Linked DNA regions of Homo sapiens: all the other regions are linked to region 1. Evidence: fine-mapped expression QTL. A gene starts in region 1. Each other region holds a variant in brackets. All regions are shown on one strand. Distances are from middle to middle.

The links. PIP is the estimated chance that this variant, and not a neighbour inherited with it, causes the effect.
Region 2: its variant is fine-mapped to the expression of GNPDA2 in thyroid (GTEx, PIP 0.95).
Region 3: its variant is fine-mapped to the expression of GNPDA2 in esophagus muscle (GTEx, PIP 0.93).

Annotation. Positions count from the first base shown.
Region 1 is chr4:44,720,243-44,731,123 of GRCh38, reverse strand. GNPDA2 (glucosamine-6-phosphate deaminase 2) reads left to right here and starts at 4,568. Exons shown (of 7, transcript NM_138335.3): 1 at 4,568-4,650; 2 at 8,882-9,040. The coding sequence starts at 8,917. RefSeq lists an enhancer at 4,236-4,365 and a silencer at 4,858-5,152.
Region 2 is chr4:44,694,865-44,705,745 of GRCh38, reverse strand. It overlaps GUF1 (GTP binding elongation factor GUF1), which reads right to left. Exons shown (of 17, transcript NM_021927.3): 15 at 10,012-10,131; 16 at 8,302-8,338; 17 at 4,818-7,202. The coding sequence ends at 7,065. GNPDA2 (glucosamine-6-phosphate deaminase 2) reads left to right here. Exons shown (of 7, transcript NM_138335.3): 7 at 2,604-3,951. The coding sequence ends at 2,665. Among named protein-coding and RNA genes, the nearest start is that of GUF1, 22 kb to the right of the region's middle. The variant A/G (reference allele first, on the strand shown) is at 5,043.
Region 3 is chr4:44,664,731-44,675,611 of GRCh38, reverse strand. No RefSeq gene overlaps it. Among named protein-coding and RNA genes, the nearest start is that of GUF1, 8.2 kb to the left of the region's middle. The variant A/G (reference allele first, on the strand shown) is at 2,115.

The sequences.
Region 1 (10,881 bases):
AATAGCCCAATTTAAAAATCAAGAAATGATTTGAATAGACAGTTCTCCAAATAAGATATCAAAAGTGCAATTATCACATGAAAAGACGCTCAACATCATAAGTCTTTAGAGAAACGCATATTCGAATCATTTCATATCCACTAGAATCACTATAATAAAAAAGATAGAAAATAACAAGTGTTGGCAAGGGTGTGAGAAATTTTTAATCCTCATGCATTTTTGGTGGAATATGAAATGGTACAGTTGCTGTGAAAACAGTTTGGCAGCTCTTCAAAAAGTTAATCATCTAGTTACCATATGGCTGAGGAATTCCACTTCCAGGTATATATCCAAGAGAATTGAAAATAAATGTTCACACAAAAACTTTTGTTTAAATGCTCATAGCAGCAGGAAACAATCCAAATGTCTATTAACTAGCAAGTAGATAAACAAAATGTGGTATATCAACACAATGGAATATTACTCTGCAATAAAATGTAATGAAGTACAACATGGATGGAGCTAGAAAATATGGTGCAAAGTGAAAGAAACAAGACAAAAAAAGGCCACATATGGATTCCATTTATATGAAATATCTAGAATAGGCAAATCCACAGAGAGAGGAAGTATACTAGTGGTTGCCAGGAAATCAGGTAGGGGAGGGAGAATTGGAAGTGACTGCTAACAGGTGATGAGGTCTCTTTTGATGTGGGGTGGGGGATAGAAATAGAAAAACAGAATTAGATAGTGGTGATGGTTACATATCATTGTGAGTATACTGAAAGTCACTGAACTGTATACTTTAAAAGCCTGAGTTTATAGTATGTGAATTACATCTCGATGAAAATTATGTAATAGATAACCTGAATAATCCTGTATTTATTCAGGAAATTGGATTTATAGTTAAATTTTTTCAAAAAAGAAAACTCTATGTACGTACGGCTTCTCTAGTGAATTCTATCAAGTATTTAAAGAATACATTATGTTACTATAATTCAACACAAATTATTCCAAAACATTGAAGAGGGAAATTTTCCCACTCAATTTATAAGTTTGTTATTACTATGATACTAAAACTAGACAAAGACTTCACACACAAAAAAAAACTAATAAACAAAAAAACTATGGACTGATATCCCTCATACACATAGGTGTAAAATTTTTAAACAAAATTTTAGAACATTGAACCCAACAATAAATGTATAAGAAAGACCCTGACCAAGAAAAACAATGACCAAATCTAATTTTCTCCAGCAATAAAAGTGCACTCAACATTGAATTCACCAACATATTAGAGTGGAAAACCATACAACCATTTCAATAGATACATAGAAAGTGTTTGACAAAATTCAACATCCATTGTTGATTAATAAAACAACTATCAGCTATTAGTGAAATGCCTGATACCAAGGCTGGGTAGGAAAAATACAAGGTACACTCAGAGTCGTTCCGTGTTGGAGTCTTCATAACATACAGTCATGCATCACTTAATTATGGGGATACATTCTGAGAAATGCATCTTCAGACGATTTCATTATAGTGTGAATGTTATACAGTATATGCACACAAACCTAGCATATATACACAAACTACACATATATGGTATAGCCTATTGCTCCTAGACTACAAACCTGTACAGCATATTACTGAATACGGTAAGCAATGTAACACAATGGTATATATTTGCATATCTAAACAAAGAAAAGGTATAGTAAAAAAAAAAGTATAAAAATTAAAAAATATTAACAGTACACCTGTATAGGACATTTACCATGAAAGGAGCTTGCAGGACTGGAGGGTGCTCTGGGTAAGTCAGTGAATGAGTGGTGAGTGAATGTGAAGACCTAGGACATTACTGTACACTACTGTAGATTTTATAAACAATGTAGAGTTAGGCTACACTAAATTTATAAAACGATGTTTTTTTTCTTCAATAGTAAATTTAATTTCCTGTAGCTTTCTTACTTTATATTTAAATTTTTAAAAAACTTTTTGGCCGGGAGTGGTGGCTCACGCCTGTAATCCCAGCACTATAGGAGGCTGAGGAGGGGGGACCATGGGGTCCGGAGATCGAGACCATCCTGGCTAACACAGTGAAACCCCGTCTCTACTAAAAACACAAAAAATTAGCCGGGTGTGGTGGCATGCGCCTGTAGTCCCAGCTACTCGGGAGGCCGAGGCAGGAGAATTGCTTGAATCTGGGAGGTAGAGTTTGCAGTCAGCCAAGATTGCGACACTGCATTCCAGCCTGGACAACAGAGTGAGACTCTGTCTCAGAAAAAAAAAAAACTTTTTGACTCTAGTAACAACGTTAAGGTTAAAACACACATTGGAGAGCTGTCCAAAAATATTTTGTTTCTTTATATCCTTATTCTATAAGTTTTTTTATTTTAAAATCTATTTTTAATTTTTTTCCTATTCAAATTTTTTTGTTAAAATGAAGACACAAACACACATGTTAGCCTAGGCCTACACAAGGTCAGGATTATCAATCTCCCTGTCTTTCACTTTCACATCTTATCCCACTGGAAGTTCATCAGGGCAATAATGCACATGGAGCTCTCATCTATAATAACAATGCCTTCTTCTGGAATACCTCCTGAAAGACCTCCTTGAGGCTGTTTTATAGTTAACTTTTAAAAATATAAATAGGGCCAAGCATGGTGGCTCACGCCTATAATCCCAGCACTTTGGGAGGCCGAGGCAGGCAGATCACGAGGTCAGGAGTTCGAGACCAGCGTGGCTAATAAGTGAAACCCCGTCTCTACTAAAAATAAAACAAAATTAGACGGGCGTGGTGGCAGCTGCCTGTAATCCCAGCTACTCAGGAGGCTGAGGCAGGAGAATTGCTTGAACTCAGGAGGCAGAGGTTGCAGTGAGCCAAGATTGTGCCATTGCACTCCAGCCTGGGTGACAGTGCGAGACTCTGTCTCAAAAAAATAAACAAATAAATAAAAATAAAAATAGAAATAGAATGAATACACTCTAAAATAATGATAAAGAGTATAATATAGCAAATACATATACCAGTAACATAGTCATTTATTATCAAGTATTATATCCTGTACATAATTGTATGTGCTAGACTTTTATGAGACTGGAAGCACAGTAGGTTTACACCTATGTAGCCACAAACACGAGTGGTGTTGCTCTACAACTTTACGTTTACTACAATGTCGCTAGGTGATAGGAATTTTTCAGTTCTGTTATAATCTTATGGGACCATTGCCAAATATCCAGTCCATTCTTTACCTAAACTTCCTTATGTGGCACATATCTGTAATTCAAGACTGTAATTCAGTCTCCACCTTTCTACAGCATTCTTTCTAAAACACGTATGTTCTAGTCTCTTATCTTCAATTCATAAAGCTTAAGTGACTCCCTATTGCCTACAATACAAAGCCTAAATTCTATGCATAGCCTACAAACTACTTCATCATTTTACCTCAATCTTTTTTGGAGAGACAGGGTCTTGCTATGTTGCCCAGGCTGGTCTCCAACTCCTGGGTTCAAGCCATCCATGCACCATGACCTCTGAAAGTGCTGGGATTACAGGCGTGAGTCACCGAATCTGGCCAAAAATCGCTTTTGCAAACTTACTGAAGGCGATAGTACTAATAAACCTGTCTATTATCAGTATGTGAGCAATGTTGCTGTTTGAAGCTAAATCAACGAGAATGTAACATCCTACTCTTCACTAAAGGATGCAAGAGGAGTCATTACATTCAAAGAAGCAGGCTGGATTTACAACCCAGGTGAAAAACTTCATATAACGAGTTTGAGGACACAGCGTTTTACATTTTTTTAACTTGTAGTTTCCACAGAAACAGAACCTTAAGTTGGCTAGGAGTCAAGATTGTATTGTTCCTAACAGAACCCTAAACGGTGTTATTAATGGAACAGTGTTCCTGATGGAACATGGTGAAGACACAACACACTTTTCTCCTTTTGAATGATAGCTGCTTTCTTTACAATAATTTCCACAGCCCAATTCCTTCCCACTCCTGTATAAACATCTGTGATACCCAGCTCAAAGCTGATTCCAGCTTCCCCTATCCCTTTCTTAGACTCATTCAGCAAAAGCCAGTACCCTATTATATAGTGTTTTCTCTTACTGAGACGCTCCCGATTTCCCATGGTACTGTTTGCCCTTTTGCAAACTTTGATGAGTTTTTTGACACAAGACGCTTATCTGTCATTGCGTTTGCAAATATGCATTCAATAGCTTGGAGTAGAGAGAGAAATGTATTCATAAATGGCAAATATATTCATGTTGCCAAACAGCAACATAAGCAACAAAGTACGTGTGAGCACTACGGTCTTACATACTAAATCTCATAAGCCTAAAGAATCTACTGCAAATCCCTCTTTGAAAGATGGGGGGGAGGGGAAAGTAGCGTAAAGTGATGACCCAGAAACTGCGATCTTCCAGGCAAGAAGAGCGCCCAGCCGCACCGCACTCGGACCGAACTCCTCGCGTCTCACCTCAGGCGTCCTAAAGGCGGTGCGCATGCGCAGCGCCCGCCAGCCACGCCGCGGTTCCTTCCTGCGCCTTTATCTGCATCCGGGTCCGTGGGATTCGCGCTCCACTGGTCAGCTGGGGTCGCTCTCGGGTGGTTGGGTGTTGCTTGTTCCCGCTGTTCCAGCATCGAAGAACCATTGGGTCTGCCGGTAAGTTTAGCGGGGGGTGCGGCGGGGGCGCCAAGAAGGGGACTCGGGTCGGGGGACCCGACGGCAACTTCGCCCTGTGCGGCCTTTGTGCTGAGACTGGGACGCCGGGCCGGGGCGGAATGGGTGCTCAGGAACCTCGAGGCTGGGGGCGCGTGGGGTCTCCCGTATTGCCACTCGCGGACCTGGTTGTCCTCTCCGGATTTGTGCCTACGGGAGAAGGCGTCCCTGCCCTCTCCTCTCTCGCGGCTTCTTCTTGACACCTCTCTCTACACTCGTTAAAAATTCCTAACAGTCATCCTCATTTGCATTCGCTGTCCTTTGCCAAGTGAGGGCCAGGCAAACGCGCAGCTGAGGGGAATCTGCAGCCCCCGCCTCCCGGGCAGGAACCACAGCCTTCTTTGCTGTCTCTCGTCCCTCCTCGGGTCGGTCCCACACGCGCGGCCAGGCCACCCTTACGCTTTCAGGACAGGTCAGGTTGAGTAGGGAAAAGCTCAGAGCAGAGGTTCTGCAAGTGTAGATTCTGGTCTTGGCCCCGCCATTAACTAGCTGTGTAACTTCACGGGTGTAGAAGTTGTCATCCACCATTGAAGTTTTGCGATTTATATTCAGCAGCCCTTTTTCCTAGCGATGCACATCCAAAATGAATCAGCACCTGAAGGAAGACGAGGGAAAGGGTGGTGCTCTGTTGTTTTTTGATGCTGTCTTGTGATGCCAGAGAATTGCATAAGGCGACAATAGTTTGGATCTCTGAGGATTGGCAAAAACTGGAAAAGTCAAATCTTAAAAACTTAAATGTGGTGAAGAAATTCTTCTTTGCTCTGGGTGAAGGGATTCATTTGGGACTTTTGGAGGTGACTCTGCGCCCTCCAGAGAGTTTAAGAAAACAAAAAGTTGCCTGTACCTTGGTCTGAGAGACTTGCTTAAACTTCGTTTCAGTGAGATGTGTGGTGTTCTTAACAAATTTCACCTGATTATGAATATCCCCTGTGATAATTTGCAAAAGCAGAGATTCCTTGGACTTCATTTCAGATCTTTTGAAACACTGTGTCTAGGGAGAGGGACCTGAGAATCTGTATTTTTAACTAGCATCGTAAGTGATTCTCAACCGGTAAGACATCTTTGGCTAATGTCTCTTTGAGTCAGAAACACTTAGTTTTAAAGCCAGCTCCCCGGGCCACTTTTTAACGTCAGCAATAAACTTCTCGTAGTTGCAGTTTTCTGTATATGAAGAGTGAGAATAATGCTTTCAACCTCAGAGACAAGTGATTCTAAGCCCTTTGACAATAGAGTTAATCATTTTTGTGTCTACAGAACCTAGCATAGTGCTTAGAATATAATAGGTCTTCAAACGTGTGTTGAACTGAGAAAAATAACATGCCCAGGATGCAGAAGACATTGGAAAGCTCTAATGCTTCTCGTCCTCCTTACCTTATTTTTTTTCCGTTTTATTAACAATCAGCTGGCCATATATTCTTGTTAGAAGTAAATATATCTTTTGATGTTCATTACAGCCAATAATTCTTTCTGATTCTTTGGTTTAACTCTAAAATTGTTTTTGACATTAGATTATGGATTATATTTAAGTGGAGGCTGAGTCCAGTTGTTGGACTGAATTTATGACTTACTATGTAATTTATTTTCTGTAAATAAATAATTGTTATCGGGCCAGAATTCTAGATCATGGTGACCATGATTTTTTGTTGTTGTGTCAGAATTCGAAACTGTTACCTTCTTAAAGACATTTAGATTCCATACATTTATTTTAATAAGACCTTTTAATCTCATTAATTTAGAAAATTTGACTTATTACTCTATGTAAAGTGTGTGGGTACAAAACTCAGGAATGCTGAAACCATGTTATAAAAAGCTTGGTATTGGTGACTGATCCATTTAATATAAAAATAAGAATTAAAAATCTAAGAATTATGGGAATTATTACAGAATGTTCAGTAAATGTTATAAGGGGACGTTTATAAACTATTGATGGTAATGTCAGTTCAACTTCTGTAGAAAAAAGTATGAAGATTTCTCAAAGAACTGAAAATAGAACTACCATTTGATCAGGCAATCTCACTACTGGGTATCTACCCGAAGGAAAATAATTCATTATATCAAAAAGATACCCGCATTCATTTTTATCTCAGCACTATTCACAGTGAGGCAGTAGAATAGGGTCTGGAGGCAGAGGACTTAAGGCCAATTCGTGCTGACTTCCTAAAGCTAAATCAAAGGAAAACACCAAGGTCTGGGGGCAGGAAATCTAAGGCCAATTTGTGCTGACTTCCTAAAAGAGAAAACACCTGCGTCTGGGGGCAGGTAACCTAAAGCCAGTTAACCAATTAACGCAAACTTCCTAAAGCTAGACCAAAAGGAAAAAACCCATCTCCCCATGCCCAAGTAGCAAAGGACCAAAGGCTACTCTCCCTACGATCGACTGCCTTCCACCACCTCTCAGATGGAAGGGGAAAGTGCCTTGGATTGTCCGTGGACTAAGCATGGGCCATCCCTTCATCTGCATAGGGAGCCAATTCACCTCAGCCTTTAATTAGCCACGGACCAAATCCTTCATGCAGATAAGGGGTAACCGATAAGGGACCTCAAAAGGAGTATTAAAACCCAGAAAACTTTGTAACCGGACCCTTGAGCCGCTTGCTTGGGCCCACTCCCACCCCATGGGGTGCTTTCTTGCTTCAGTATCCCTGCTTTCGCTGCTTCATTCCTGTGTTTCGTTCCTTTTGTGCAGTTCTTTGTTCAAAATGCCAAGGAACTGGACACCTCACACTCATGACCTTCCTTCCAATAACAACAGTAGCAAAGATAAGAAATCAACCTGAGTGTCCATCAGTGAATGATTGGATAAAGAAAATGTGGTATATATATACACCGCGAAATTCAGCCATTGAAAATGAAATCATGTCCTTTGCAGTAACTGGAGGCCATCATCTTAAGTGAAACAACTCCCAAATAGAAAGAAAAATACCACATGTTCTCACTTACAAGTGGGAGTTAAATAATGTGTACACGTGGTGATGGAAAGTAGACTGATATTAGAGGCTTAGAAGGGTTGGGGAGTAGGAGTGGGTAGATGATGAGAAATTGCTAGGATCATTGTACATTATTCAGGTGATAGATACACCAAAACCCCAGACCTAGTCACTAAATAATATATCCATGTAACAAAATTGCATTTGTACCCCTTAAATTTATACCATTTTTTTAAAAAAAAGGAAAACAATATGTCTTACAGATAACAGAAGCTGTGAGTTACTGTAAGAATGCTGATTTCCACATCTTTCATGGTATAAGTCAACCTACATTGTGTAAAATGGAATTATGTAGCTTTTAAGTGACTCCGATCTCTTAATATACGTATAATAATTTTTCTTAATTTTAGAATAATTTTTGAGGAACTAAAATTGCTTTTTGTCAAGAAATTTCTCCTCCAGAGATGAGCAGTTTATTTAGTTCACTTTGTTTTCTTTTTCTTCTGTTGAATTCTCTTATTAAAAATAACATGTCTAGTGTGATCCTATTGTTATAATTTGAATTCTGACCTTGTTGCTTACTACCTGTGTGACCTTAGTCAAATTATGTGAGTCCATTTCCTCATCTATAACTGGGCATTTTATTTACTTCACAAGATGGTTGTAAGGATTAAAATATGTACACTTGTCCCTAGTATCTGTTGGGGATTGATTCTAGGATCCCCCTTCAGATACCAAAATCCACAGATGCTTAAGTCCCTCATATTGTATGACATAGTACTTGCATATCACCTGCACCCATACTCCCATATACTTTATCTCTAGATTACTTATAATACCTAATACAATGTAAATACTGTGTAAATAGTTGTTATACTGTATTGTTTAGGGAATAATGACAAAAAAAAGTCTGTACCTGTTTAATACAGATGCAAACATCTTTTTCCCCTAAATATTTTCAGTTCTTGGTTGGCTGAATCCTCGAATATGGAATCCACAGAAGGCTAACTATACTTAAATGACCTAGCCCACTGCCTTAAACTCAGTGTCTGCTCAAAAGAGAACAGCTATTACTATTTTTTAAATTCAGATTGTATATGTGCATGTCCTTCTTCAGTAATGTACTTTTAAAAATCATCAGTATATTCTGTTTCAGTGCTCTATTTATTATTTACATCTTTTAAAAAGTTACTGAATTTAAATTATCTGTTTATTATGTAAAGTGTTCTACAATGGACTTTTCTCAGGTTTGAACTTGTTCTGGAAGCTGTGCGTCACCGTAATGAGGCTTGTAATTCTTGATAACTATGACTTGGCTAGTGAATGGGCAGCCAAATACATCTGTAATCGCATCATTCAGTTCAAACCTGGACAGGACAGATATTTTACACTGGGTTTACCAACAGGTAATTAACTACTTTTTCCATTTTATATTCTGATATTATCTAAATTTAATTCTGATGGAATTGAAGGGTTTCTTTTAAGATACTTTCCCCATTCATTTATTGGCATGTCACTAATTGAACATCATAGTATAAAAGGCCAGAAAAATGCATATATATAAAATCTACTATCTACAATGTGTTACTAGTTCTTGTGCCAAAATTTAGTCTCACCTGTCACTCCAAAATGCAATAGGAAATATTGTAACTTAAGTGTTGTTCATATTTTTTGTACATTTTTCTAGTAGTCCTTTGTTTTGGGGAACATTGCTTTTACCATTCATACCAGTTTTTAGTTGATTGGCTTTCTTATTAATCATTAAGAGGTACCTAAGGTATGTACTGTTGCCTCTTAATTTAACTTCACCTGCCTTATAAATCCTTATTAATATAGAAGTTATAAATTATATATTATATAATGTTTATTAGCCTTTTACTATTTGCTTCTTCTATTATAGATGTATTACAAGTGAAAAATATATCTTCATCACAGTAATTACATATTTTATTGAATTCAGTTTTCCATTAAGCATTCTCTTAAAAAACGACTAGGTGGTGTCATTTGATCTTATGGCACTTTATTTGACCCATGATTTTCACAGAGTGTTAGACCTGGAACTAAAGTTGCTCCTTATTGACTACAAGGCATTTGTTCTATACCCCTGAGCCTTGGTTTCCTTACCTATAAGAAAGATAAGGATAATAACTTAAGATGCTGTTTTGAGATTCAGCTAAGATAGTGTATGTGTAAGTCCCTTGTATACTGTAGTCTATAAATTTATAGTTCCCGTGTGTTTTATTTAAACAGACTGTTTTCTCCAGCTCCTCCCCTCATACATGGTAATTACATAAAAACTACAATTGTAATTTTTTCCCACTTGAGTAATTTCCGTGAATGGTACTCTTCAAGTTGATTGTTTTGTTTTGCTTTTTCTCTTTTGGTCCAGGGCAGTAGATCTTGGTGAGAATGGCAAAAGGGTTTTTTTTTTTTCACTGGACACACCAGTACTACACCCCCAGCACCCTCAGTTCTGATATGTGACCCCTTGGGGTTGAACGTGGTTTCTGTATAGTTTCTATACTGTTACCCTTCATTACACTCAGCCTACCTCTGTTAATAACATTGTGTTAATTATGATGCAGAAAAAAACAGTAATTTGAGTGGGGACAGAAAGACTTAGTCTTAAATGTCAGCAGTGCTAAACATCTTTTTGTGTATTTAGATCTACAACGTTTGCTTTATTTTGGGTAGTATAACTGCTAGTAATATACCTGCCAAGTGAGGATCTCTGGAAAACCTTGTTGAAATTTTCCATTACTCTCCTTCATTGACCATCGACAAGTTAATTATGTCCTCTTCCCCCACTGCTTCTGAGACTTGAACATACATGTCGGTAATTGCTTGTACCAGGCTGCATTGTAATTATCTCCCTATCAAGCGCAATTTCTGGGCAATATCTGTTCAATTTTATATTTACTCACGTGACCTTAATGAGCTTGACATTTAAAGGCCTGCATGCTGTGAACCTGATCTGCTTCCCAAAACTTATTCCCACCATCTCCTTACACAGAACTGGGCTAGGCATATTTGACTGCTTGCAGTTCAAGAATAGGCTTGAAGTTGCTGGCTGCTTTGCTTTGCTTTGCTTTCACTCATATTCCTAGCATGTTATTTAATGGAATCTATATGAACTCTGGCACCAGACCTATCTAGATTGGAATCCCTGGTTTCACAGCCATATGACATTTGGCAAATTCCTTAATCTTTTTGACCCAGTTATTTTGTCTTCAAAATGGGAAAGATA
Region 2 (10,881 bases), 25 kb after region 1:
CAGGCTGATCTCTGGAGTATGCAGGCTTTTGTCTATTCTATTATACTGCCTCCCAGAATAAACTCTAGGTATGATACCATCTACATCAAAACCATATTTCCATCTGCTTTTTTCCCATATGATAATCACTGCTTCCAAAAAAGGTATATCGACATATGTTAGATAATTTAAAATAGAAGGGTGGTAGATGTTTATATGTATTTAGTTCTTTTAGTTCATCTAATTGTAAGCTCTTCTGAAAAATTTTGAAACAGACCATTCGTGAGAGGATAGCTGCACTGCATCAAGAGGACACAGTATTTTCCACTTTGGAGCTGTCTGTATTTCTGAAGAGGTTTCAGGGTATCAGCCTGTTAGGATACCTCCTTCAATATGAAGACAGAATTTAGACATTCTGGGCTACATATGGGCCTCATTTTACAGCATTTTAGTAAAGGGTAGAGAAATTGAATATTCTTAAATAAACACATTTCAAATGTAGTTTGTATACTTTTCATACCTCCATTGAGTTACTAGTATATCAAAATACTGGAGGATGTAAATTCCTATAATTGTCATCCATAACTCTTCAAATTCCATTCACATCACTACCCTTTCTTCTGTCATCACTAAAAAGTGCTGACCAGAATCTTAAAGGGTTTTATTTAGTGCCTAGATAAGATCTAGGTTAACTAGATCCAAAACAATAAAAATTGTCAGTAAATGCAAGTTTATTTCAATATATACCTATATAACGGTATATACCTTTTGAAAGATACAAGTTAATCACAAGACAACAAGTTTAGTACGTGGGGATTTGTTTTATTCATTCTCGCTTTTCATTTTTGCTTTTTAAATAGAACAGCTTTGATTTTTAGTATATGACATCATCATCATGAATTTTTTTCTCTTACTTTGTATTTAGGCTCCACCTCAGTAGTTTGACAAAGGTAGAATGAGTTCATTTTGAGTCAAAACCATAAAAGTTACTTTGTATAGACATTGGTTAGAATCTGTGACATTTAACCTTTCTTCTGGTAACGTTTCAGGAAGTCTGGTGCATTTTTATCAGAAGAATTATTTCTGTTTGACTTAAGTAGCAATTATTTATTTATATAAAATTCGTATGTAGAAAGTTGTCAGTTTTTACCTAAAGTCACAGTAAATATTTGACTTAATATCTAAAAAGCAATTAATAGAATTTTCAAAATAATTATTTCTAGTTTGGAAGCAGTCCTATTTGATGTATAAAAGATATATCCAATGTAAAGAAAAAAATTTTATAAAGGAGTTGAATTTTTAATATTTACTGATATTTTAATTTGCATGTATTTTAAAGCTCTGTGTATTCTTTCCGTAATCAAAGTTGTTAGCAAATGACAGATGAATACTATTTAAGTAGAAAAACGATCCTCTACAAAGTGATACTCTGGAAAATGTTGCATCTTCTAAATCATACAGCTGATATTACCCTTATCTTTGTTGTCCCCTCTCCTACTGGACATGAAGTTTCAGGTGACCTTCAAGTAGGCTGTTGAGCAGTTGCAGGACTAGTGAATGGAATGCTTCCCCCTTCCCTCCTTTAGAGTCCCATTCTTATGGTTAGAATTTCTCCTACTACACAAACACTTCCCAGTACTCTTTGCTTGTCCCTTAAAAGTGGGTCTTTCTCAAAGCTGGGATTTTAGAGTCCTTTTTGCAGCCTTTCTGACAAGGAACATCTGTTTACTAACAAGCAACCTATCTCTCCAATCCAGTAATCCCATTTCCTGCAAAACCGCATTAAGTGCCTTTCCCCACCCTCCCATGTTCTTAATACCTGGAAAACTTAACTCATTTCTTTACCCTCCAAAATATAAAATCTCTGGTTCATTAACTGGGTCAGTCTTTTTAGAACTTTTTTCTCCCCAAAGAAATATAGTACTGAGGCATTAAAACAGGAGTAACTGGAAGATCAGCTATTTCCCAAGCAGCTTCCATAGCTAAGAGCAGTCTGCAAGTATATGTACCAATTACAAAATGAAAGTTATAATCTACCGGATTTAAAATCGTAATTTCTATTCTGAATTAAATGATTTAATACAGGTTGTTTTCTGTCTTGTTTTAGTAACCCTCCCTCAGTGTAGAATTTGTAATCAACCTTTGTCATAAATACACATGCCAAACTATTGGAAAGTAATTTACCAGACGAATGGATAGGGTAATGTATTAAGAGTGAGACAGCAGTTCTGAGCCCCTGGCTGGAGTCTAGTAGAGGAACTGCCAGAGGATCAATATCAACATAGACTTTTAGATATAATTAAAACCTATTATCTAAGTCAGTATTCAAATTTGTCATGCTTAATCTCTTTGAAGACAAGAAATGCTCTTCTGGTTACTCCCAAAGTACCTGTACACATTCTAGATCTGCACTGTTACATAATTATAAATTGGTATTTGCTAGGTAGATAAAACTTAAGACATTCTGAAACATTTCTATTTGTACTTTTTCAATAAACTTGACTATATCAAGATGGGAACTAAACAGGCTTACTGTGTCTTATAAAAAATACTTTGTTGTCTAAAGTAAATGAGATAGTTCAAAATTAATAAAAACAACTAGAACTGTGCTTTTTTTCTTTAAGGTCTAATGCATGTGCACAATAAACTTGTGGATCCACTATTCAGTATGAAAGATGGAAACTGAAGGAGACTGGAGCAAAATTCAGCTTGAATGAACAGAGCACTTTTTACTAAGTAGTAGATGAATTTTCAGCTATGCAATATGACAAAACATGGGGAATTTTGAAGATTGTCATTTTTTCATTCGAGTCTCTATGTTAAACATTCCATATTTTGAATATTTATATCTTGTACTTGGGTTTAAGAGAAGTAGCTGGCTCTCAAGATTGACTGGCTATTTATTATAAAGTACTGAAGTCACATAGCCACCTATAAAACAGCATAGAAATGTCTGCCTGTTTAAAAAGTCATTTTAAAGGTAGAGTGTCCACATCAGGCACCATTTGTGATATGACTCCAGTGGCGTATATTTCATTTTTTAATGACAAGACACTCCAAACCTTTCAGATAACAAACTATCATTGCAGACCTTCACTTTTGGAATGCAATCTTTATATTTTCTGTGCATCACACACATGCTTTTCTGCACGTGGTTGCCTTAGTCATCTTCCTACAGCACCATCTAGACATCAAAAATTGTGCTATATATCATTGGTAAAGGAAATTTGAAGAGATGACAGTGCCTAAAAGTACAGTTTACATCCTTTTGGAAAGTATGTGTAAGTGCATGTTTTTTGTGCACCTTCTTCTATAGCACTTTTTTACAAATATCTTATTTTTATTTAACGACTTGGGTTCATGTCCCTAATATAAGTATCTTGACAATTATGAGCTTTATACCTAGCAAGCCACTTCAGGAAATTCTTTTGGAGAATATTTTCTGATTATTGTTAAACTTAATATACAATTAGCTTTATTCCTTATAAAATGTCTAAAAGAATAATACGAAGTATATATAAAAGGAATTACTGTAAACTACATTGCCATAGCAATTTACATAAAAGTATATTGTTTTTTATCTTTAACTCAAATAAAGCGTGTAATAAATAAGTTATCTAAATTTCCAGAAGTGAACCTGAAGAATACATGCATTCGACTCCCAACAATTATAGTACATGTGAACCTGCATTCATTTTGGGTTTGTTACCATCATGCATTAGGAGAGTTAGGTTAAAAGATGTCTTTGCCTCTGTGGGGAGCAAAAAAATGCTCCTTTTGCTTATTTTGCATTTCATAAGCCCACCTGGTAGAAGAAGCCTTACTTATCTGCTTGTCTATGTGATTAAAATGTAGTTTCTTAAAATATTAAAATAGCAAATAAATTAATGAAATAAAATTGGTAATAGGGTTTTATGGTTAAAAGTGGGGGATGGGGTAAATTATGCTGCTTTAATTCCAGATGATGTTTTAATAGCCTTATAAATGTTTTTTAAATAACTAGTGAGTAACACTCCACTTACACTTCCAGTAATAAGAATCATTTACTACAAACTATGCTGACTACCTTAGAAAGTCATACAGCATCACAGTGAAAAAGCTAAAGGTACCTGTTGTGCTACATGATTCACCAGTAATTTCTCTGCTTTAAAGGTCTAAAAATTCTCCTTTCCATTTTCCTTCCCTTGATGTTAGGGGCTTAGTTGAGGTTCATGTACTCAAGCTCCTCCACAAGCTGAGGAGCGAAAACTCTGGCCATTTTCATTCCTGCTTTCATTCCCTAAATTGAGGAGCTAAGCTGCTGTTAGGCAAAGAACCTAGCTTTTTCAAGAAACCAACCACTGAATCCCAGCTCTGTCAGGGAAATAAAAAAGTCTCAGCTACTTCCCCAAAATTTTTACATAGATTGAATAAGGGAAGCATACATAGCTCAGCACAGTGGTTGTCACATATTAAAGTCAATAAACGGTGCTATTTTAATATTGATAACAGTGTTTAAACATATTTCAGTGTTTGCTAAAATCTTAGTAATATTAAGTCCTCTGAGGAATGCACTTATAAAGCACACAACTCCAAATCACTAAAGTCATCTGACTGGGAAAGCGGGAAGGGGAAAGAAATTAAGCTTACAGAAAATGCTTTTTTGTACTACAACTAAAACTATAACTAAAACTACTTTTTTGTACTACTATAACTAAAGAGTCATAGGTTAAAAAAAGGTAAAATTAGTCTGAATAAAAAAGACTAAGACTGGTAAATTATTAAATAGCAAGCACATAGTACATATTACGTTCCAAGAACCAATTTGTAACTTATCCTTTGGCAGTGATAGAACAGAACACTTTTACAATTTTTTAATTTCAAATACTGTCATTTTCAAAATACTACTGTCATGGTCTTTCAGATTTCATCTGTTTTTATCAGAACCTGGAAGAGGGAGGGAAGATACATAAGATGATAATGTATGTATCTAGGACTATATCACAGGCTACTTCTACACATGATTTTAAGTAAATCTCCACTTAATTTATAATTAAAATGATTTCACAATAACTGTAAGCTCA[A/G]AATATCTGAGACAGCTCTCAAGTCAGTTTAGAAAGTTTATTTTCCCAGGGTTAAGGTGTGCCCATGACACAGCCTCAGGAGGTCCTCACCACATGTGCCCAAGGTGGTTGGGGCACAGCTTGGTTTTACACATTTTAGAGAGACATGAGACATCAATCAGTATGTGTAAGGTGTACATTGGTCTTGAAAGGCAGGACAACTTGAAGAGGGGCGGGGGCTTCAAGCATAGGCAGGTAAGAGAGAAAGGGTTGCATTTTTTTGAGTTTCTGATTAGCCTTTCACTGAATATACAATTTACATGTGAGAGGAGAGTAGAGGAATAGTCAGTTATACCTTAATCTGGCTTAGTGAAACATGAAACAGAGAAAGCAATCATTTATGCATTTGTTTCATGTGAAGACTTTGAGTTCTTTGTCCATAAGGAATTCCCTTGTGAGCAAATTTTATCTTTGTGGCTGTCTTATTTAGGAATAAAATGGGAGGCAGGTTTGCCTCAATCAGTTCCCAGCTTGACTTCCCTTTGGCTTAGTGGTTTTGAGATTTTTCTTTCATATAACCTTAGTATAAAATTCATCCTTGATAGTGTTTATCCCTAAAAGACATTTTCTTCATTCAATTCATTCAAGGTAGAAGATAAAAATCAATGGCTAAATGATGTTGTCTTGCTCTAATACAGTCTGCAGTCTGGTTTGTTCGTTGGCTGAATAAACATGGGAGCTGAGAGCTCTGGAGAAATACAGCCATTTACTGGCTGTGAAATCTCAAGTTAACTACTCTAAAATCGCTTCGATTATGAAATTTAGACAATAATTATTAAAATGTCATTATGAGTTCCTGGTAATACCAAACACCTGTCATTTTACACAAATGCGTTTTGAATGTCTGAAAGACAGCTCCTGCCCTTAATTTAGATGTAAACCATTTAGTTTCAAACTAACCACCTGATAAAATCTATAAACATTTTATCATTAACTAGAGCAGATGTCTGTTATTTGATGTCTATGTTATTTGAGTTTACTGTTTAATAAGTGAATTCATATCAATTAATCCTGCTAACAAATTTGACACTTAAGGTGATTCTGAAAATCCTTTAAACTTAAAGTAGATGGAATCTTAAGTATGGGGCCTTTTAGTGTCCGTAAAGAAAAACTGCATGCAACAAAATATAGCAGGTCCTCACTTGTTGAGATTCATGGAAATTGTGACTTTAAATGAAATGACATGGCTGGGCATGGTGGCTCACACCTGTAATCAGCACTTTGGGAGGCCACGGTGGGTGGATCACGAGGTCAGGAGTTCAAGACCAGCCTGGCCAACATGGTGAAACCCCGACTCTACTAAAGATACAAAAAATTAGCCGAGCATGGTGGTGCACGCCTGTAATGGAGGCTGAGGCAGGAGAATCTCTTGAACCCAGGAGGCAGAGGTTGCAGTGAGTCGAGATTGTGCCATTGCACTCCAGCCTGGGCGACAGGGCAAGACTCTGTCTCAAAAAATAAATAAAAATAAAATGAAATGACGCATAAACCAATTTTTTTTCCTCATCGATGTTACAAACCACTTAAGGAAATGACATCATTCAAGAACATTGTGCTACGTGTCATTTTGCTTAAAGTCAGTTTCTAAGAACCTTTCGATGGCATTTAAGGACTTAACTGTAGTTACAATTGAGTGCTTACTATGTGTCTTGCACCTCTGAATATTTAACGTATTACCTCATTTAATCTTCACAACAACAACTTATGTAGGTAGTAGTATAATCTCGATTTTACTGAAGAGGAAACAAAGGTTAATCTGGCCACGGTCACCTTACTAGTGAGTGGTTGGAACAGATATTTGAGAACAGGCAACATGGCTTCAAAATCTAAGCTCTTGCCTACCCACTAACTACTCCCTTTCAACGAAAGACTAGTAGGTTATTTGAACCTGAATACCCTGAAAGTAACAAGCAAATTTTATAATTTTCTTTCTGTTGTCAGCATATTACAAATTGCAATGAAAATTCTTTGTTTTCCCACCAATTATTTAGAAGATTGTGTTTTCAGAACTTTTATAAAAGCATCTTTTGGAACTTCAACGTTGCCAATTTTCCTCAGCTTTTTTTTCCCTTCTGCTTGTCTCTTCAAAAGCTTCATTTTTCGGGTAATATCACCACCATACTGAAAAATATTTTAAAACATTGGAAGTCTAAGTCACTCTAAAGAGAAACAATCATATGATTACAGCGGCATCAGTACAACCTTAACAACCATACCAAATTATTATCCATAAGGCAGACATCTCTCTAATCTTCCTAGCAGATCTAATTTTACTGTCTTCTCAAAGAATGATACAGGATTTAATCTGGATGGAGGTGAAGATTCCCAAGGAAACCTAGTATAATAATATGCATGTCAAGGAAGAATTATCAATCTCCTTACTGATTCTAGGCTTGGAATTTTGACTAGAAAGCCACAGTCTAATATAGGTAACTCTTAATCACATAGGAATAAATGTGCCTTTGGAGAAAGAATTGATCATTCAACTCTCACGATATTTAAGAATAATTTTTCTTTTTTTGAGATAGAGTTTCCCTCTCACCCAGGCTGGAGTACAATGGCAGGATCTCTGCTCACTGTAACCTCCGCCTCCTGAGCTCAAGCAATTCTCATGCTGCACCCTCCCGAGTAACTGAGATCACAGGCATGCACCACCACGCCTGGCTAATTTTTGTATTTTCAGTAAAGCTGCGGTTTCACCATGTTGGCCAGGCTGGTCTCGGAACTCCTAGCCTCAAGTGATCTGCCCATCTTGGCCTCCCAAGGTGCTGGGATTACAGTTGTGAGCCACCGAGCTGGTGCAAGAATAATTTTTTAACAGCTGAATAACAGCAAACTGGCAAAACAATGTCAGGAGAGGTAGACTTCAACTGTAAGATAAAGCCATTGTTTTCAAAATCTTTCATTATATGTTAGATCAAGAAAACATGTTACCCAGATCATAGAAATAACTGTTGTAAAAATCTTCCTTAGTATTACATATAAGAACAATTTTAATAAATATTTTTGTAAATTTTTATAAATAAGATGAAAAAATACTTAAAAGATATGGGCAAAATGAACAGGTTGCCATGGTCAAGCTGAAATTTACCTATTCAAAAAGGGAACTTGGAAACAAAGAATGTATAAAAACCAACAATGGAAATCAATAAGTTTATGCCCCCTTTGATTTAAAGCCCATAAAAGTTATAAAGTAGAATAAATACAACTAGATACATACACATTTTGCCAAAACGTTTTTCCTATAGGCTTTCACACTGTAAAAGAGAAAAATTCGTTTAAGTACATAATTCCATTATACTGTTTAAAAGCACTTCCTTACCAAAAACAATCTCCCCTTTACTAGAAAATTTTAATGATAGTATCATTACCTATGTAAAATTGCCATAAGCATATTAATTAGATACTTCAAATGCTCTTGTATTTATTTTCATGTACTTGGTATAAAAGAACAAATAAATTCAACATGTTTATCAACACACATTAAGAAAAAATGGTCAAGGCTTGTGGTAGGCTTGATTAGGCCAAATTCAAGCATGATGTGACCTTGATTACAAGAAATACATTAGGTTATTTTTTACTCAATCTAAAAATTACCAATCTAAAAATTAACACTACTACTTCAGAAAAACAAAATATGTTTATTATCTTATTACTGCCTCTACTGAATGTGGATGGAGTGGCTAGGAAGCTTGATATATCCACCCCAGCAGTTATAAACTAATCTATTTCTACAATGTTTGAGAAATTTCTAGATCACTCTAATTTTGAAAATAGCTCCATCTTTATGTATTCCTTAAGACAGAAAAACCAATTTTTTAAGGTATTATCTCAACACACTTATTTTAGAATGAGCAATTGCTAACTGTCTTAAATTGCACTTTCCAGGATGTTCCCTAGTTATCATTTCTACTCTGCCTGATCTCAGTATTTACAAAACACAGAATAACTAACCAAAGCAAAACAGTGTTAGGAAATGAAATGTATTTCAAACAGTGGGCCTAAAATTAACCTCAAGTCTATATTAACATGATGGTTGTATTTCCTCATTAGGTTTGGGTTAAGGTCGAATTTAATAGCAATTTCCAGCTTTTCATAACTGAGGAGATACTTCCTATTTCCTAGAAGTCTTAGGATCATTAAGGAAAGGAAATGGGAAGTGCTACAAGACACATCCTGCACCTGCTGTCACAAGCAGAGCAGCTTATTCAGTGTTCTTCATTGTTATTTTTGGGTTTTTGTTAAAAAACTGGGTCTTACTATGTTTCCCAGACTAGTCTCACAGCAATACTCCTGCCCCAGCCTCCCAAGTAGTTGGGATCACAGAATGTGAGCCACCACACCCAGCCAGTGTTCTGATTTATGTATTACATTTCATGAAAGACTAGTGTCCGACACAAATTAGCCTGTCTTCCATATCTACTATAATTCATGTGAGGTCCCTAATCTAGAATGCAAATCCTAACATGGTATTGGCATTCCTTGATTTATAACCTCCCTAGCTCTGCGGAAGTGGGGAAGCAATATTAAATGCTTTGGGTTAAAAAAAAATTGTAATTTTGTCATTTGGAAGACAAAACCTTTTAGTTTCAGTTTCTATTAATCTATAATCTACCTAAAGGGATAAAACCATAAAAGAAATTCCTTACCCAGGAAATTCAGTATAGACATTGATATGAGTGGAAATTAAAACAGTTCCTCAAACTCGTATACGTTATACTAACTGCAGATCACATCACCCAGTGCTGTTATATAAGTAATTCAAAGTAACAGTCATTACTTAAATCAGAAAACTGGAGAGCACCATCATACTGTTTCTACAAGTAAGAAAGCTTAGGCCAATGTTAAATTAAAATGTTCAATATTCTTTCACTTTTTAGGTATATCATTTCTGAAACTGGCTCAAGACCAAAAATGAATTTCAACTCACGTTTCTCTTGCAATGATTTTACTTCCAATAGCAGCTTGAATTGCTATCTCAAACAGTTGCCTAGGAAGAGAATCCTTCAGCCGTTCACATATGGCTTTGCCAATTGAATGAGCTTTGTCTCTGAGACAGAAAAATACAACTGTTTATATATCCTAAATAAGAATATTTCAAGTATTTTTCTAGGCCAGTTGCATAATCAGTGTAAAGGTGATCTCTTAAGGAGGTTCAAATGGAACTTACTTATAAATCTCTCTTACTCTCTGAATCATGAACAACTTCTCTGATTTAAAAAAGTAATGTATGATTACAGAATATTTAGAAATACAACATTAGACAATAGAAACTGTTCTTGATTCTCTTTCCTTACCCGCTGAAAACGGTTAAACATTTTGGAATGATTATTTTAAACAGTTATCTTTCTAATCACTTTTTTGCATTTTTTTGTATGATCAGTGTTTACGATATATTCTACCCTCTTTATATTTAACAGACATTTTTATGTCACTAAATATTACTCCACAAGTTTTAATGGCTGAAAATAACAATATGGGTGCTTTGTAATTCATTTTAACCAATCTGCTGTTTCTTGAACACGTGGGGGTTTTCCTTTTTATAATTTTTTTACAAATATAAAAGGGCGCGGTGGCTTACGCCTGTAAATCCAGCACTTTGGGAGGCCGAGGCGGGCAGATCAGAGGTCAAGAGATCGAGACCATCCTGGCCAATATGGTGAAACCCCATCTCTACTAAAAATACAAAAATTAGCCGGGCATGGTAGCATGCGCTTGTAGTCCCAGCTACTCAGGAGGCTGAGGCAGGAGAATTGCTTGAACCCGGGAGGCGGAGGTTGCAGTGAGCAGAAATTGCGCC
Region 3 (10,881 bases), 56 kb after region 1:
CAAGAAAAATGTGGCCAACGTTTTTTAAATAACTGTCTAGAGTCACAGTTAGTGATGAACTAGGGCTGTGAGTCCACACAGTCCAGCTGTAGAGCCTGCACCCTTAACCACTCCAGTAAACTCGGCTCAGCTGAGCAAGGATACAAATGCGGAAAAACACACAATAAATTGGGTTAATAGTCAGTAGAGAACAGGGCCAACATTCAGGACAGTAGCATTTTATTTGAGGCGAGGACTTCTGAAGAGCTTAAATAATTTACAAACTCATAAATCAAGACTCAGTTTTTCTGTAAAAATAAATATATAATATGGAGATTGCACTCATATAGTACATTAATCCACAACTATTGTATGGTTTCTATATTTGTAAATATACCGAAAGGAATATGAGTTTGCTAGGGCTTTCATAACAAAATACCACAGACTGACTTGGTGGCTTAAACAATAGATATTTATTTTCTCACAATTCTGGAGGCTAAGAGTTTGAGATCAATGTATCAGCACAGCTGGTTTCTTCTGAGACCTCTCTGTTTGGCTTGCAGATCAGTACCTTCTGCGTTCTTACAGGGTCTTCTCTCTATACATGTCTGTGTCCTAATTTTCTTATCAAGACTCTAGTCATATTTGATTTGGGCCAATCCTAATAATTTTAAATTAATTATTTCATTAAAGACCCTATCTCTAAATACAGTCTCATTCTGAGATATTGGGGGTTTGAACATCAACATATAAACATGGAAGTGTTGACACAATTCAGCCCATAACAAAAGAGTAATAAAAACAATGTATAAATAACTATCACCTCTAAATTCTGTTTCAAAGTTATTGATATTGTGGAGCATTTCTAGCACTAAAAATACCATTAATAAATGATTAAAGTAGTATCACATTAGCCATTTAAAGCGCTTGCACAATTTTAGAGCATAATCACACAATATTAACAAAGGTTCTCTAGTATTGCTGCTAGGCTGCTAAAATGGTGCCACCATGTGTCTACAGTATAAAATACATCTTTCAATTCACTTTTGAGGCCCATTTTTAAATTATTCTAAGTTTTTTAGACTTTTATATTTTTTCAAATTTTGAGCATAAAAATTTGATCTTTAGAAATATTTTCATATCACAAAATAGAAAGTGTATAGGGTAGAGGAGGAATCATAGAAAGAAGAGTTTGTATCACTTTGTGAAGGGCTTTGAACAGGGACGTACTAGTTAGCATTTCACCATTAATCTATGCAGAAACCATCGTAAGGAAGGAAATAACAGAATTTTTTGCTCTAGGGGGCTTTCTCTAACGATGTGTAAAATGAAAAGAAATCAAATGAGGTGATGAGAATGAAAGGGAAAGAGAGTTTTTTATTTTAATAATCTAGGTAAGACAGGCCGGGCGCGGTGGCTCACGCCTGTAATCCCAGCACTTTGGAAGGCCGAGGCGGGTGGATCACGAGGTCAGGAGATCGAGACCATCGTGGCTAACACGGTGAAACCTCGTCTCTACTAAAAACACTAAAAATTAGCCAGGCATCGTGGCGGGCGCTGTAGTCCCAGCTACTCGGGAGGCTGAGGCAGGAGAATGACGTGAACTCAGGAGGCGGAGCTTGCAGTGAGCTGAGATTGCGCCACTGCACTCCAGCCTGGGCAACACAGCTAGACTCCGTCTCAAAAAGTAATAATAATAATAATAATCTAGGTAAGACACAGTAGAGTCCTGGGTAAATCAGTGGCAGAGAATGAAGAGATGATTAGTGGCATTTTGGAGACAAATTTAACAAAATTAATTTGATGTAGAGAGAGAGAGAAGGCCAGGATAACTCCAAATTTCATCTTAAGAATGCAACCTTGAGCTGTTAGAAACTATATTAGTGTTTGTTCAAGTCTTTTGATATGTGTGTATGGGTGGGAGGGGGGAGGATGTGGATGAAATCAGTTGTGCTGAGAGTCTGTAGTTTTTATAGCCCAAGGTGGAGACTTTGCCAGTAAATGGGCTCAGAGGAACCTGGCTATAGTTAGTCAGGAAAAGTATTTTGTCAATCTTCCTATTTCTCTTATATACTTAATATTTTTTAAATTAACTTACCTTTTATATGTAAATGAATTTTTAAATAGAAAACTTT[A/G]TATGATTAATATAAATCGAAACAACATAATAACCTGTTAAAAACTAACAGTATCAGCATAATGAATAAAAAATGTGATTCATTTAGAGTTGGATTTCTTTTGATTAAAAAGGGAGATTAGTCAGCATTAGAGAAGAACTGTAAAATATTAGCACCAAAATAAGGTGTTGGCTGGAACAAACAGATTCTTTTGGCAACTTTGAGCTTTCCCAGACTGAAACTCAAGGAGGCTGGAGTCATCATCTGTTTTTCTGGAGAGCATTGACTAATATAGATGCTTAGAGATAATTTTTGAAAAATATAAGTACAAATCCATATAGGCTATTCTGTTTCCTCAAGGCATGTTTCACAAAAGGGTACCCTCAAGTGTATTGAGTTCTTCTCTCTTCTTTTCTCAACAACTTTATTTCCTACCCTCTGATTTCAAAAAGTTATCTAGTACCACAGTTTTTTAAAAAATTGTTTACAGATGGTTTCCAGAACTCTAGCCCTGAATTATTTTCCCTAAACTCGATTTATAACTACCTATGAGATACTGAATATTAAAAACATCCTAACAGCAATGTTATTCTCCAGTCTACCTAAGCTAGATATACTGGTTACAATGGCTTCTCACATTACTTATTCAAGGTGCGTCACACACTGTCTGACATGCTAGGTATATATACTGGCTATTCACACACACATACACACAAAATGTATATATATATCTATAATGTGTGTATATATAAATATTTACACACACACACATATATAGCCATGCATGGCATGTACATGCATATGGAGACAGAGAGAAAGAGATCACATTTGAGATTTTAAATAATTGACTCACACAACTGTGGAAGCTAGCAAGCAAGAAATTTGTAGACCAGGATGGCAGCCTAAAAATTCAGATAAATGTTGATGTTGCACTCTTGAGTCCAAAATCTGCAGGGAATTCAAAATCTACAGGAAAACTCAGGCAGGATTCCTTCTTTAGTTTATCTTTTACCTCTCTTGTTTTACTATAAACAACAAGGAGAAACCAGGCTGCACCTTCAATACTTTGCTTAAAATTCTCCTCAGTTAAATATCCAAGTTCATCATGAATAAGTTCTTTCCACTCTATAGAACACAATTCAACCAAATTCTCTGTCACCTTTTCTTCAGTTTCCATTAACATGGATCACCTATTCTCCAGTTTCCAATAAAATGATCCTCATTTTTGTCTGATACCCCACCACCTTTAACATTTATATTTCTAGCAACATTGTTCATGATGATGTATGATCTAAGATGATAGAAGCTTTCTCTCCAGGTTTACTCTTTATGAGCTCTCCACAGACTCTCCTTTAACATCCATATTTTTTACCAACAATCTCTTCAAGGCAATTTTGGCTTTTTCTGCCATTTTCCTCAAAACTCAGTCTTTGCGCATTTCTTAAGTTCAAAACAACTTATACTTTTTAAGATATTTCTTGCTGAAGCAGCCCACTTCCTTTTGCCATCTGTATTAGTTTTCTAGGGCTTCCGCAAACTGAGTGGCTTAAACAACGGAAATCATTATTTTATAGTTCTGGAGGCTAGAGTTCAATTGGCAAGGTTGGTTTTTACTGGGAACCAGGATAGAGAATCTGTTCCATTGCCCCCTACTAGCTTCTGCTTGTTTCCTGGCAGTCTATGGCATTTCTTGGCTTGTAGCTGCATCAATCCAGTCTCTGCCATATGGTGTTCTCCCTGTGTCTCTTAACATAGTCTTCTGTCTGTGCATGTCTCTGTGTTCAAAATTTCCGTTTTTATAAAATACCAGTAATATTAAATTAGGGCCCAACCTAATGACCTCATTTTAACATGGTTATCCCTGTAAAGACCCCATTTTCATATAAGGTCACATTCTGAGGTACTGGGCATTAAGACTTCAACATATCTTTCTGGTGGGGACAGAGTTTAACCACAACAGCATCTAAGAGTTGACCTCCCGGCAGGCCCAAGGTCAGTAGCCTTCTGTCTAAATCTTGATCCTGGTTAAGAATCTGGACGAATCTCCTCTTTCAGAGCCTCAAAAATGAATCAGCCTGAGACTTTGTATCATAATTTATGGTAATTTGTAAAAATTACCTTAAAATTAGCCTTAAATCCAAAGACTTTTAATGATAATTACTTTTAAAGTATTTATGTTCAAGCAAAAACATTACCAACCCAAATACTCTGAATAGATACTTATTGGTAGTTCTTAAATGGTCATAGCAATATTTCTTTTCTGAATGCTGTCCCCAGAAACTCCATTGTTTTAGTTTTCTATTGCTTTGTAACTAATTGCCACAAATGCAGCACCTCAAACAATACAGATTTATTAGTTCACAGTTATGTAGGGCATAAGTACAGCATGGTTCATTTGGATTCTCTGCTTAGTATTTCACAAGGCTGAAATCTGGGATCTAGTCAGGCTGGACTTTTACGTGGAACCTCTAGGGTAGTATCTACTTCTGAGTTCATTCAGGCTGCTGGCAGAATTCAATTCCGTGTAGCACTGAGATACACATTTCCTAGCTGGCTGTCATCAGGGGGCAGCTCTCATCTCCTAGCGCTACTCACATTCTTTGGCACGTGGCCCTCTCCATCTTAAAGCTAGCCATGGTACATCAAATCCCCACTGAGCTTCAAATATCTCACTTCTTCTGCCTTCAGCCACCAGCCAGAGAAAATTTTCTGTTTTAAAAAGATTCATGTGGTTAGATTAAGGCACTCAGATCATCTCCCTATTTTAAAGTCAACTAACAAGTGGCCTTAATTATATGCCTTTTGCTAAGGTGACACCCAGCAACAACCACCAGACATATGGACTCAGCAAGACTTCACATGATTCCAGCATTTAGTTTCTGAGCTACCACAGATTTTGCCAAGCAGAGCAGGGAAGAGCTCTCCCCATCAGCACAGCCCAAATTGCAGATTTCTGAAAAAGATAAATGTCTCCTTGTTTAAATTCAGTAAATTTTGATGTGTTTTTGTGTGTGTGTGTGTAGCAATGACTATCTGTAACAACTTATGTACATATATTTATTTTATTCTGAGAAATTTGCGTTCATTGATTAATGTATTAGTCCATTTTCATACTGTTATAAAGAACTGCTGAGATTGGGTAATTTATAAAGGAAAGAAATTTAATTGACTCACAGTTCAGCATGGCTGAGGAGACCTCAGACAACTTACAGTTATGGAAGAAGGCAAAGGGAAAGCAAGGCACCTTCTTCACAAGGCGTCAAGAAGGAGAAGTACTGAGTGAAAGAGTGAAAAGGGAAGAGCCCCTTATAAAACCATAAGATCTCGTGAGAACTCACTCACTCTCAAGAGAATGGCACGGGGGAAACTGCCTCCATGATTCAATCACCTCCACCTGGTCTCTCCCTTTACAGATGGGGATTATGGTGATTATACCTCAAGATAAGATTTGGCTGGGGACAGAATATCATTTATTAATCATTCAATAAATATTAGCTGGATGTTTACTACATGTCAGACACTATATTAAGCCATGGGAATGCAAAAATGAAATAGGTATGGTTGTAGTACTGAGAGAATTTATGATAAATTTAAAAAGCCATTTTATAAAAGATAATCATATTACAATGTTATAATTTTTATGATAGAATTTTCAATAAAGTATTATAAAGGAACAGAGAAGAGGCCTCTTCTACAGCCAGATAGTGGTGGTATCAGGAAAGTCTTTGCATGGTGGGTGACAATAATACTTAGTTATACACATTAATAAAGAACTTGCTATGTGCCAGGTGCTCTTCTAAGCACTTTGTAAATATCTCAATTAATCCTCAAAACAACATTATAAATAAGTATTATTGCCCCTGTTTTACAGATAGGGCAATTGAGCTTGGGCCGGTTGAATAACTTGACTGAGTTCATGCAGGTCGTATGTAGTGAAGGGGCATTTAAACACCACTCTGGCAGATTTGAAAACTATTCCCTTGACCACAGAGTTATGTCCCTAACTTGGGGGCAAAGGATAAGTCAGATTCAACCAGGCTGAGATGAAAGTAAGGTGTGACGTTCTAGATGGAAGATCCTACGTGAGCAGAGGCATGATATATGCAGGAAACAGCCAGCACTTTTAGGTTGCAGGAATTTAGAGTTTGGCAAGAAGTGAAGTTGAAAAAGAAATTAGGAACCAGACCAGGGAACGAGGAGCTTGGATTTCATGTTCCTGGTAATTGTAGCCACTGCAAGGTTAGAAAGATTTTACACAGAGGAGTAGCGTAGCAATTTTGTGTCTCATTTAGATCATTTTCACAGCTGCTTGGAGGCAGGGAATAAATTAGTTTCAAGAGATAAATGATGGCAACCTACATGGGGACAGTGATACTGTGTCTGCAGAAGAAATGAATTTGACTGGATGGTAAATTTATCCTGCCTTAATATAGAATATGAAAAAAGCAATTGCATATTACAAACCCAGAGTAAAGAAAATTTTTGCATTTCACACTTGAAATGTATCATCTGATTCCTGGTTTCCATTATGCCTCCATTATCATCTATTAGTTAAAAAAATTAAGCAGGGCAGGGGAGAGGGAATATTTTGTTTAGTTTTGCACTGTGGAGACTTGTGTCATTCTTGTCAGATGAAGACCAATTCAACTACTTTCTAAGCTTGTTGTTATATTATTCTAAAACAAAAATCTCAAAGCAAAGTTTATTGTTCTCCAATTCTTTAGTGAATCTTACTGATTCAGGAAGTTAGTCATAACTGAAAATGACTTGTCTCTGGCATCCTTCCTTTTGCTCTTTGGCATGTACAGAAACTTGTTTGATGCCTTAGCTTAAAGTCTTTAACCTGGAGAAATGATATGCTACTCATGAACCAAAGTATATCACACAGGAAAGGCTTGGCTATTTTTCCACCCGTCAGGTAACTTTCATAAACCCCAAGGCAATGCCCAGGCAATGGCCGTGGCCTTTGTACTGTCATATATTTGGGAACACACATATTCACTCATACATCTTTCAAAGGTGTGTCTTCTTCAGAAGGCTATGTCGTGGAGCATCGGTATTTCCTTTAGGAGCACATCATTAAGAGTTTTGATAGATTTCACTATTAAAAATAAAATATTATAGTATTAATGTGTGATTTTTATCACAATAAAATACTAGGAAGGATAAGATTAGAAGTGTTTAAATTGAAAAATATCCTGACCCAACATATACAACAATAGCTAAATAAAAGGCATCAATTAAAGACACTTTGGAGGCTGTGGGGTGCAGTGGCTCATGCCTGTAATCCCAGTGATTTGGAAGGCAGAGGCAAGAGGATTCCTTGAGACCAGGAGTTCAGAGCTTCAGTGAGCTCTGATTGTGCCGCTGCACTCTAGCCTAGGTAATGGAGTGAGTCACTCTATCTCTTGGTGGAGGGAGATGCTTTGGTTGTTAGCTATGTTTTTACAGGAAGGTGTATTATAAACTTTAAGTTACAATTATACAGCTTAACCTGGTCTAAACAAGCAGTTCTATTGGCTTATATCACTGCCAAGTCTCTTTAAGCCTTGGATTTATCAGGATCACAGGTCTGTTTCTCTGATAGTCCATTGGTTCTGCCTTCCTCCATATTTGGTTTATTTTTATCTTACATCCTTAAAAAATGCGTGTCAGAAGCAATTGAAACACTGTTTTTTCTTATTGAGATACAGGGAGAGAGCATCAGTTTTCACAATTAGTGAAATAATCTTTTTTTGAGGTGTTGATCTGGATCTACTAGTAGCATTATGGAAGAAATTCTGATGTGAGCCCCGGGGCTCTTACACAATGTCGGCAGGGTGTTCCCCAAAAGGAAAACTGGGTGCTGACAGGAAATGAGAAGGTGGATTGGATATTGAGTAGCAATAAATGTCCATTACAAGGATTAAAGGATTCTTAAGCAACCCGGAAGAGTACATTTCTAAGTGCACAATGCCAAGGAAAATAAGGAAATTAATTTTCCTGTGACTTTGTCTTTTTAAAAAATTACTTTAGCATCTATTTCTTACCTGTGTTATTTTTTGCTTCTCTGACATTTTGTATTCTTATGTGAGTCATTATTTGCATAGTACTGATCAATTTTTTTCTCTAATAATTCCTCCTATTTTTGTCACTAGTTTTAGATTTATTAAACACCTCACAGTAGTATTCATTCATTTGAAAGTGAATTATCTTAGAAAAACATCATTTCCGTTTGTGCTTGTTTCTCTATGGCAGTTGTGGAATTTAATATTTATTTATGCTCACAAGGAAGGGAATTGTAACATGTTGAATAAAGAATATGAGAAATAAACACTTTTAATGTTGCACTAGGAACATGAAAAAAAAGAGAACTTTTCTTTTTAAGGCCTAAAAGGATTTATTCAAAAGAATCCCTGCAGAATCTAGTAGATTCGAGTTTGCAATAAAATGTCTTAGCAGAAATTTTTGGCACATTTAGGCAGTATACCAAGCAGCTTTGCAACACAGATAATGTCTCCCATCAGAAGCTTCTGCTGTGGCCATGTTAAAAATATAAATATTTTTAGGTACGCTTACAGTACTTGAAATATTTCAGTAGATATAGGGGGTGTCCTTATATACCATATAATCCAAAAATATAATTTTATTGCTTAGAAAACTGACATGCAGAGAAACTAAGTAAATTGCCATAGGTCACACAGCAGGAATAAGAGAGCTTACATTATAACAGAAATACAATGCTAGCCTACAAGTTTACAGAAGTTATTATTAGGGAAATCTCTGTGACAAAACTTGATGGCTATCTTAGTGGAAAAATTTGATGATGTTTTCCCCTTGGAAAAAGATGAGCTGGAGGCCCTCTGGTACCATGTTAAGTTTTGTTATATGGATGTAATGTCTCCCATTTTCCTTCTTTGTCATAATAGATGATTTAGAGAGAAATAGCATGAGCATAATACATCAAGAGAAGACATTAGAATGGCTACAGGTTTGTCTTGTCAGGTAAATTATCTGGTTTTCTTAGAAAATGAGAATTGCACCATGTTGACATGACATATGTGAGGATAAGATCTTATACATTTAATTAGTTTTTTAAAAGATTTTGGTGTCAAGACATATTTAAGTTTGTCAGTTTTACTGACGAGTTATTGTATTAGTTACCTACTACTACAGAACAGCACACATTTTTTATCTTATAGTTTCTTTGGGTCAGGAAACTGGGCATGGCTGAACTGGGTTCTCTGCTATACAACCTATCACAAGGCTGCAATTGAGATATCAGACAAAGATCCACAGTCTCATCTGAAGACACAACTGAGAAAGGATTCTTTTCCATGCTCATTCAGTGATTTGGGGCTGTATTCAGATCCTGTGGTCTGATGGACTGAGGACCTCATTTTCTACCCATCCGTGAGAAATGGGTTGGGTAGAAAGTGAGGCCTCCCTTATTTCCATGCCACCTGGGTCTCTCCCATATTTTAGCTTGCTTCATCAAAGTGTGCAAGCCACAAAGGCAATAGAGTCTGCTAACAATATAGAAGTCATAATATTTTTCATTTAATCACAGAAATGGCATCCCATTATCTTTTCCATATTTTATTGGTTAAAATCAAGTAATCAAGACTATGCTTAAGGGGAGGGGATCACACAAGAGCATGAATACCAGGATGCTGGGATTATTGGTGACCACATCGGAACCTGCCTATCACAGGTAGAAAACAACCTTTCCAATAAAGACTGTCAGTAAAACTATTAATATTATTCTGTGAAAACCACAGTGTGATATCCACAGCCTAAAATTCACAGCCTAAAAACATTCTCAGCAATAGATTTTTATATAGAAACACTGATGCAATGGAAAGAAAAAAAGATTTTAAGCTAGTTTTGCTATATTTAAAGCTACATAACATACTTAAGCAATAAAACAATGCCAGAAACTATTTATAACCCAAAACTTCTTATTTCCCCAGTCAAAAACAATCAAACATATGTAATAATAAAATTTGAAATACATCTTTTTAATATAAATATTTGTCTTTAATAGATAGTAAGCAATTAATTTGTCAGTTTTGTTAATTGCTGTGATTTATCACTGTTTTTCGTTCCACAATATGTATATGTATGTGTGTGTATACACACACACAAATAAAACAAGCTCATGTAAGTCATAAAGATCATTACATCATTTGATACATTTTACATCATTTGATAAATATATTTAAAATAGTCCTGAAAATCAATTCTGCCACATGAATTTGAGAGTATATGTCTTATTAGTCCCATTTTTGAATGTCTGCTGTGAACATAATACTGTATATTTCATTTATCATTTAATCAATTTATTAGTTAATCAGAATAGAAATAAATTTATATGTATATCTTATTTTTAATAAAATGCTAATAGTAAATGACTATGAAAAGAGAATCTATTGATAGGGGTTTTCCTATGTTATATGATATTTTCAAGTATATTACGCTGATAAAATATTAAGAAAGCCTCTTACACAGAGATTTCATTCTAAATAGATACACATTAATTTTGACAAGGTAAAAAAAGTGAGGTTAAAAAAAGTTGTCTTGTTTGAGTATTCATTAATTCAACAAACCTTTATTGAACATTTATTGCATCTCAGGAACTGTGCTAGGTGCTATGAAGAATGTAAGAATGCAGTTAAATGCTCAAGTGAATCACCAGAATAGAATATAAGCCTTCTATATAATTATAGTAGATGGTAAGTGATGGCAACAATGAGATATCTAAAAGAAAGATTTTCAACTTAAAGCAGTGATTGCCTATGATATAATT